Linked DNA regions of Homo sapiens: region 2 is linked to region 1. Evidence: fine-mapped expression QTL. A gene starts in region 1. The other region holds a variant in brackets. All regions are shown on one strand. Distances are between the middles of the regions. Region 1 holds the start of ANO3 (anoctamin 3). Region 2 overlaps ANO3 (anoctamin 3).

What was found. PIP is the estimated chance that this variant, and not a neighbour inherited with it, causes the effect. A credible set is the group of variants that fine-mapping cannot tell apart.
Region 2: its variant is the best candidate, but not a certain one, in a credible set for the expression of ANO3 in pancreatic islets (van de Bunt 2015, PIP 0.60).

The regions. Positions count from the first base shown.
Region 1 is chr11:26,329,604-26,334,005 of GRCh38, forward strand. ANO3 (anoctamin 3) reads left to right here and starts at 2,527. Exons shown (of 27, transcript NM_031418.4): 1 at 2,527-2,718. The coding sequence starts at 2,673. It overlaps LOC105376598 (a long non-coding RNA gene), which reads right to left and starts at 2,371. Exons shown (of 3, transcript XR_931138.3): 1 at 2,259-2,371; 2 at 1,917-2,032.
Region 2 is chr11:26,469,945-26,474,346 of GRCh38, forward strand. The region is part of intron 4 of ANO3 (anoctamin 3); the gene reads left to right. Among named protein-coding and RNA genes, the nearest start is that of MUC15, 100 kb to the right of the region's middle. The variant T/C (reference allele first, on the strand shown) is at 2,269.

The sequences.
Region 1 (4,402 bases):
AGAAATAATAACAAACATTCTTTCCTTGGAAAAAAATCCAATGAGGTTCAAAATCTCAACTCATTTCTAGTTCTGGCAGATACATATTTGCCTCCTGCTGGGTTTTGGATCAGGGAGTAGGTTGGAGAAAATCAGGGATCAACAGAAAAAGATCTTAGGAAGGTAAAGGTGATACCTGTGCCTAGAAATGTGGAATAGAGGGACTTAAATTTTTTTTTTTTTTTTTTGAGACGGAGTCTCGCTCTGTTTCCCAGGCTGGAGTGCGGTGGTGCGATCTAGGCTCACCGCAAGCTCCGCCTCCCGGGTTCAAGCCATTCTCCTGCCTCAGCCTCCTGAGTAGCTGGGACTACAGGCGCCCGCCACCGCCCGGCGAGGGGACTTTAATTCTTTTAACTAGTCCTGCTGACCAGGGATTGAATTAAAGTTTAAATTTCAAAAATATTTCTGATTCTAAAACCGGTGATTTAAAAGGGGGTTTTAAACATTTAAATGAGATCTACAGGGGTCATAACTGACTAGTAAGTATTGGGTGTTAGTTTTCTGCCATTCTTAAATTCATTGTCTAATCCTCACGTAGGAGAATTGGGTTGCATTAGAATCAATGAGTTGGTTCACATCAGAATGATCTGTAAGCTGAGTTCTATCAGAATTTTAACTCTGGATGAACAAAATTTAAAAAAAACATCCTCGAGCAAGTCATTTATTCTTCTCGGTTTCAATGCCCTCATCTATACAATATCTGTATTAAAAGCCCTTACGGAGACAGTCTCTGAACTGTGTTTTAGATCTTCATTTGGAGGTGAACTCACACTGAGTTCATTGTCTGTAACCAAGTATTTCTTCAATGCCTGCATACTGAGCTCTTATTGAATGCTCAGCATTTCTTTCTGGAAAGACCATTATGATACATTAAAGAAGGTAGCACATTGTTTGCTCTTCCTCCCACTGAGAGTAGAATCCAATTTCGCTTTTTGCTTCAGATGACTTTAAGACCAGTTACTGAACAATCAAGAGAGACTCTGAGAGATAACTGCCTGTCTGAATCTAGCCCACCTGCAAAATCCATAAGTAATAATAATAAATTTTAGTTTACAGCTTAGTTTCAGGGTAGTTTGTTATGCATCCATAAATAATTGGAGCATCTGTTTGTTCAAAGCTATATTCCCCTCATTCTTTTGTATCATGCACCACAGATGAATCAAACAGCATACAATAATAACTCAATATTTTTGAGGTATCGAAAGTTTGGAAATTTCTGCATATTTTTTATCTGCTTTTATTTGGATTATTCACCTGATTCTGAGTTGATTCCATAAAACTTCAAAACTGAGGAAGCAACGGACTCTCACGATGTGTCTGTTCAATAACATCTTACATCTTCCAGGAAGAACTTAGGGCTTTGAATCAGGGAGCAGAGATAGATGGAGGAAAGGAGATCCTACTGAAAAATGTGTTCAGCTAGCTTCTGGTCCTATTTTGGCCACTGCAGTTTGGTCTTTCAAAAGTTACTTCAAAGTGGGAGCTGAATGATGAGAACACACGGACACAATGGGGGAACAACACACACTGGGGCCTGTTGGAGGGGGAGGGAGAGCATTAGGAACAATAGCTAATGGCTGCTGGGCTCAATACCCGGGTGATGGGGTGATCTGTGCAGCAAACCACCATGGCATACGTTTACCTATGTAACAAACCTGCGCATCCTGCACATGTACCACGAACTTAAAATACATGGTGAAGATATAAATAAATAATAAAATAAAACTTCTCAAACTAAACAAAAAGAGTTACTTCACTTCTTTGGGTATCGGGTGCCTTCTCTTTCAAATAAGGTGTTGATTTATGTGGTCTTGAGAAATCTTTGTTGCTCTGATCTTAAGTTTCTTTTTATAATATTAGAATCATAGTTTACCTACATTACAGGGCTTTTATGAAGATTAAATCGAGCATCGTGGGTAGTGTTTTTTCAGCCCCTGTGACTAAGTAGGTTATAAATGGTCCTCAGTCATCATCATCATAAATGATTCAAGGCCTGAATGGCAGAAGAAGAAGAGGAAAACTCAAGTGAAAAGTGCTAGACATAGAACACAGCTTACCTAATAAAACATGCTACTGGCTAACTAAGCTGGGGTGGCTTTCTGCCCCCTCTACTTAAATTTAAGAAAGAAAAACAGAAACGTCTCTGCATCTGCCACTGCATACCCTCTCAGAGCACAGACCAACTTTGCCCTTCCTTAAAAGTCCCAGGGTTTACCTACCAACTTTTAGGAAATAAATAACCAGCCTCAAAGCTTGGCAAAGAGGGCATCAGTATCAGCTCTAGAGGTTTGCTCCGATTTATATCTCCTCCTCCAGTAAAGTCTTCTGCTCCCACTCCCAGCCAACCCCGCTCAACGCCCACCCCTCACTGTGGCACTGGACGCGCGGGGGATGCGGGGTTGTTCCCAGAGTAGCCGCTAAGGGGAGCCGGACGCTAGACCGCCCTCCCGCGTTCCCATGACAACGACACCGGCGGGCGCGTAGCCTGGAGAGCGAAGTGCCGGCTACAGCAGGTGTCGGATTGCAGTGCGCTCGCTGAGGCTCCGGACCTTGGAGCGTCTAGAGTCTGGCTACTGTTCCTCCGCCTCCCTCTCGGGCAGCTCCCTAAGCCGGCTGGGACGCGCAGAGTGAAAATGGTCCACCATTCAGGCTCCATTCAGTCCTTTAAACAGCAAAAAGGTCAGTTGGAATCTTGCTCCCCTCTCCCTGCGGGCGTCACTTCCCCCCTGCATGCCCTTGCAGTTGTGTAGGAGCATCCTTTGCAGGCTTATGCGACACAGAGGTGGGGAACTCTGTGAAGTTAAAAAAAAAAAAAAAATTAAATTCCTCTTCACTCTGCATCCTAGATGAGTGATTTTCTGAGCCTCCGCACAGTGCCTGGGAGTATCGGAATTCGTCATTTCAGGACTTGACTTAATGTATATCTCTGTGAAGACTGTTTCAATGCACTGCAGTAAACCCGCTTAGTAGGGATTGTCCGAATAGCTCAGTAGAGCTCTGAGGGGTGAGGACAGAAATGTTCAACAATATCTGCCGTCTTCTGTGGTTCAAATGTTGAGTAATCTTCACAAAAGTGTGTCTACTCCTTGAGACGCATTTACACAATCATAAGATAAATGAATTCTTGGGGGAGTTCCAGAGTTGGCCTGTTGCAGTTAAAGGGGCTCTGTCACTTCCTTGGGAAAATTTATTGTTTGCCCATGTCCCATGCTTGATTCTGGGTTTCAAGTTCTTGAGGTTAGGTTTCTCTTCTAGGGGCTTCGTATTATGTCTTTTAGTTTCTCCCTCAAGTTTCTTGCTGGGCATAGTGACAAGAATCTGTATGTTCAAGTTATCCTCACTCTTTGATCTTTGTTTCTTATTTGGTTTAAAAGGCTTTTTACAGAGCATTTTTATTTTGAGGCACATTCACAGTTTTTGGAGTTTTATTATCCAGAAGCATTAATTAACACAATTGCCACTTTGCTGAATTAATAATGGTAATTATGATACAGTTAACCATAGAGTGCCTTAGATGTGTGAATTCTGGAATGCTGAATTTGTTCATTCAAAGTAAATATTTACTTAAATATTCTCATCCCCACCCTCCAGATATTATTTGTATTTCTTTCATCAACAGTTGTTTTTATGTAGCTCTTTGACTTTTTTTTTTTTTTTGAGGTGGAGTCTCGCTCTGTTGCCCAGGCTGGAGTGCAGTGGCGCGATCTCGGCTCACTGCAAGCTCTGCATCCCAGGTTCATGCCATTATCCTGCCTCAGCCTCCTGAGTAGCTGGGACTACAGGCGCCCGCCACCAAGCCCAGCTAATTTTTTTGTGTTTTTAGTAGAGACGGGGTTTCACCGTATTAGCCAGGATGGCCTCCATCTCCTGACCTCGTGATCCGCCCGCCTTAGCCTCCCAAAGTGCTGGGATTACAGGTGTGAGCCACTGTACCCGGCCCTTGACTTTTTTGTTTGTTTTTAACAAAAACTAGATTAACACACAAGAAACAATTTCGAAGGGATTCCTGCGTAAGACAGAATATGGGACTGACTGAGTTTCCAGTTCCATAATTCTGTACTCAGTTCAAGCCCAAGTTCTCTAGGATGTTTCAAATATATGTTGAAATTGGGAGTGATGTGTGAGACTGTAGGGGTAGACAAAAATTTCACCTAGTATGCACTTCTACTTCAACTCTAAACATTTCAAATAAAGTTAAACTGCTTCAAGAAGTTGTGTTCTCTTTAATCATGGTTTTAAACATACATAAACTTTCAGAATGAAGACAAAGATGATAGGAACTTTGCAACAGCCTCACAGAATAAATACCTCCACTGATGCATTGGCTATGGGTGACTCATTTCTGGGATCTGGAAGCTTCAAA
Region 2 (4,402 bases), 140 kb after region 1:
TGTACTTTTAAACTATAAGCTATCATTTTTATTCCTTGCTGGCCAATATGTACATTGAGCCAAATTTTCTGGAAAACAATTTCACAAGGAAGGTTCAGTACCTAAAGGTAATTTTGCCCTTTGATTAGTTCTAGGAATTTATGCAGAGAATGCAATTAGAAGTTAGCCAAATTTCTGGGTGTGGTAGCTCATGCCTATAATCCCAGCACTTTGGGAGGCTGAGGAGGGCAGATAAGTAATCTGGAGTGTGAGCCCAGGAGTTTGAGAACAGGCTGAGATACACAGTGAAACCCTGTTTCTACAGAAAAAATACAAAAATGATCCGGGTATGGTGGCACATACCTGTAGTCCCAACTACTCGGGAGACTGAGGCAGGAGGATCACTTGAGCCTGAGAGGTGGAGGCTACAGTGAGCCATGGTTATACAACTGCATTCCAACCTGAGAGAGAGAGAGAGAGGGAGACCCTCTCAAAAAAAAAACAGAAAAAAAAAAAAGCAAGAAGTTAGCCCAAATAATTCTGTTTAAGAATGTTTCTCACATTGTAATTTGTGGTGGGGGAGGACCACTTCCAGAGTCAAGAGTAAATGATAACATTTAAAATAGTAATTCGTAATGCCCTCAGACAAGGCAGTACTATGTTGAAAATCTCTAAACTATTTAAGGATAATAGGACATGATCACAGTGTATAATTATATAATAAAGTGGCTGTAAAAAAATGTGCAGTATAATGCCAATTCTATAAAAATATCTAGCTGGTTTTCATGGGGAAAATATTTAGAATGATATACAAGAGATGTTTATAGTTTTTAACACCGGGTGGTAAAATTCAAAGGACATAAAACTTAAGTATTCATAGATTTAAGCCATAAATATTATAATATCATTACCTTTTTACAATCTCATACAGCTAATAAATGACTGAGCCAGGATTTAAAATAAGATAGTCTTGTTTTCCAAACAGTTTTTCCATTTTGTTACACTGGCATGACAATAGCCATTCAGGACTTCACCTTTTTTAGCCCAATAACCATGGTAAGAAGCATTTCAGTTTCTTTGTCCTAATATGCACTGATCACTTTTGCACCAGAAGCTGTGGTAAGCACTTTATATACATTATCTAATTTAAGTTTCACAATAATTCAATGACATTAGGTAGTAATACTCTCATTTTGACAAACAAGAAAATAAGGAATTAACAGAAACGTTTATTGCCCAAGTCTGTAAGCTAGGTGGAACCAGAGCTGCACTGTGGTGTGTCTCTTTAACTGTAGACTCGGCTTTTCTGTGTCCAGTTCAATCTCTGAGATATACTCTCAGATTTATCTCTTTCCAAAACCCTGAAACATTACTCTGAAGTAAGGCAGCTCTAAATTGTGTGGCTAATTTACAACCTCCTGTAACTAGATTGACCTGTTTGTAATTTATTCTTGTATCAACAAACCCCTAAGTAAAAATAGATAATTTGTTACAAATATAATATCACTAAACCTCAACAAAAGTAGTCAAATAATAGAAAGTTTCTATTCCTTAGGATCAAATAATAATAAGTAGACTAAATATTTTCAACTGAATCTATTACAGTATGGGAACTCCCCTTACCAATCAAAATATGAAATAAGCAGCAACACCACCACCATCACAAAACAAATAAAACTGCACAAAAGCTCCTACAGCTGCCAACAGTTGTGTGTAGAGCTGCAATATGTCTATAGCAGAGGGCTAGGAAGTCATGACATGAGACGATTTACCTGAGAGAATGAAATTAGGTGAGAGATGGATTTGTTGGGGTAGATGCCTTTAGTTCCCAGAAAGACTATAAGGGGAAAAAAATGTGCCTATTTAGGAAGTCGTATTTCATATATGATACAAAGAAACAAAAAATAAGTCAAAGGTGTTTTCTCTCCCCTGACACTAATGTCTCAGTAATTAAACACATAGAGGTTTCTCGAATCACCAATTTGTTTTTCCCATGAGTACTTAAGAATTTATTTTGGAAGATATATCTCCTAAGCCTCCCTGAAGGATGTTAGCTCTAAAATGAGAGCTGCAATAACTTCTCTGCAAAAAAAGTATACATAGTTTGATGGGATGTGAAAGTAAATTCAATAAATTAATGTATGGGCATTCCAGTTAAATGGTGCAGATAATGGTTCTACTTGATATTTAAACATTCAATCAATCACAGGCTCAAATCAAATAGTTCTCTAGTTGTTCAGACATGAAAGCAGCCAGAGAAGACAGATCAGAAACCGTGTTATTTGAGCA[T/C]ACTGAAAGTCAAATCTACCTCCTTAATCTGTCACCTCCAAGCCCTCCAGGCTGTGAACACTGGATTGGAAGTTTCAATATTAATAATAATAATGTTAAATGATTACAACAGCTAACATTTACCAGGGATCTTAACAGGGATTTTAATGACTTCTACTTTTCTATCATCACAACTCTAAAATGTAAGGTCTATTTTTACCCCCATTTCATAGGTGAGGAAATGAAGGCTTAGATGGCTACGTAACTTTCCTGTTATCACACAGCTGGTAAGGAGGAGGCAGGAATTATATACAGGGACCATGCTGTCAAGCACTGTGCTACACTGCACGTAATGGAGGTGTGTGCAAGGGACTATAGAAACCATGAGACAAGTGAATTGGGTAGTTAGGGGTCATGTTCACATTACTGGAAAATTATGTTTATTAGGCAGCATGAATATTGTGGGTTTTTTCAATGTTTTATACTTAAGAAAATATAATAAAATTGAGGCTCCTGTGCTTAGTTAGATCCTGATAAATTTTAAAACACTTGTCCCTAGCTTGCGGCTTATAGCCCTTCATCTCCCCATGTCATCTTTCTCCATGTATTTCCGCACACAGCCTTCTTAACCTCACCAGTCAATCAAAATATGAATATTTTGAGGAATTATCACTGTAGAGAAGAAAATACCTACAGAATAAAGCACTGTTGTGTTTACTGAATAGTTTCTGACACTTCTGTTTTAAAAAACTAATTCTTGTTTTGTTTGTGGTGGTTGACTTCTTGCATGATGCAAACCAGGATTCCAGATGAGGGTTTCAGTCACGGAAACCCATTTGCTTTCATTAATCCCTTCATGCCACAGACAATTTAAACCTACATATTAGAGTAATATACCATTTGTTCTTTAACTGTTTCAAACATTGTGTGAAGTTATTTTTTCTATTTCTTGAACCTGCTAGAAAATCAATTTTAAAGCATGCTTATTAACTCAAGACCATATACATTAAGTGGTTACTTCTTAGGTTCAGTGTCTTGTCAGTTCCAATTACAAGCTGCCCTACAGAGGCATTTTTAAAACAGAAATAAATGTAATCCTCTGTTGCATCTCTTATGTGGATGTTAAGTAAATGAGGACAAAAGCATTCAATTTTATTTGCTTGTTTACCTTTAGGTGACAGTTAATTCCTGTGCTCTCAGATTACAATCATATCATTATGTGCAGCTCAGAGACAATACAATGCAATGTCAAGTTGAACACAGGCAGGATTTTTCAGAAACCACAAAGCTTTCCATTATACCTTTCTCCAGTGAACAAGAAAATGAGGCAATTTCCTTTAAAACCAGAAAAAAAAATTACAGGAATTCCTGGTGAACTCCACTCCGCTATCAAAAAAGTGTTACCTAGTTCACCGTTTAAAAAGTTAGTATTTTCCAGACCACTATTATCAAACTGAAACACACCTCCCACCTCCCATGTTAATCTGCCCAGCTCAAATGGCACATACAATAGATTATTAATAATTGACAGTAAAATCATAAAAATGTCACTGACGTTATATGATTAAATGTCACTTAGGTGACTCATGCATAGACATTAACCAATGACACATGAAAGCAGCCCCCTATTCCACCCTATAACCAACTCCTAAAATGAAATTAATAAAAAATACAGATGTTCTTATAAAGAGATGAGTTATCTTTAAAAAAAAATGATTATTCAAACTCTGGCATTTAGAGAGTAGGCTAAAAACCCTCCAGTCAAATGCTTTGTGTAGCACTCAGTATGTAACATTCTAGTTAATGGAAAAAGCAGGCGGTGAAAGGGAGAACTTTCAGTTGTCACACTGAAGAGTGCTTTAAAGAAGATTGTCATTTGAGACTGTTGTCAGCAATGAAGGATTCCAAATGCAGCTGAACTCAGAATTCTGACTGTGGTATGTTTAAAAGTGCATCAATCTAGGAATTCTATACTATTTTTCTATTTTCTTAAACATATGTAGAGAAGCCAATTGAGAGAAATTAATATTGATTTCAGAATTGGAATTGAGTGTATCTGTTATTTCAAAATACTAGATATATATTTTAAAGTAAAGTATGATCTAAATGTGTTATTTTTAAAATATCTGTGTTTATCTTGCATGTAAACCAAATA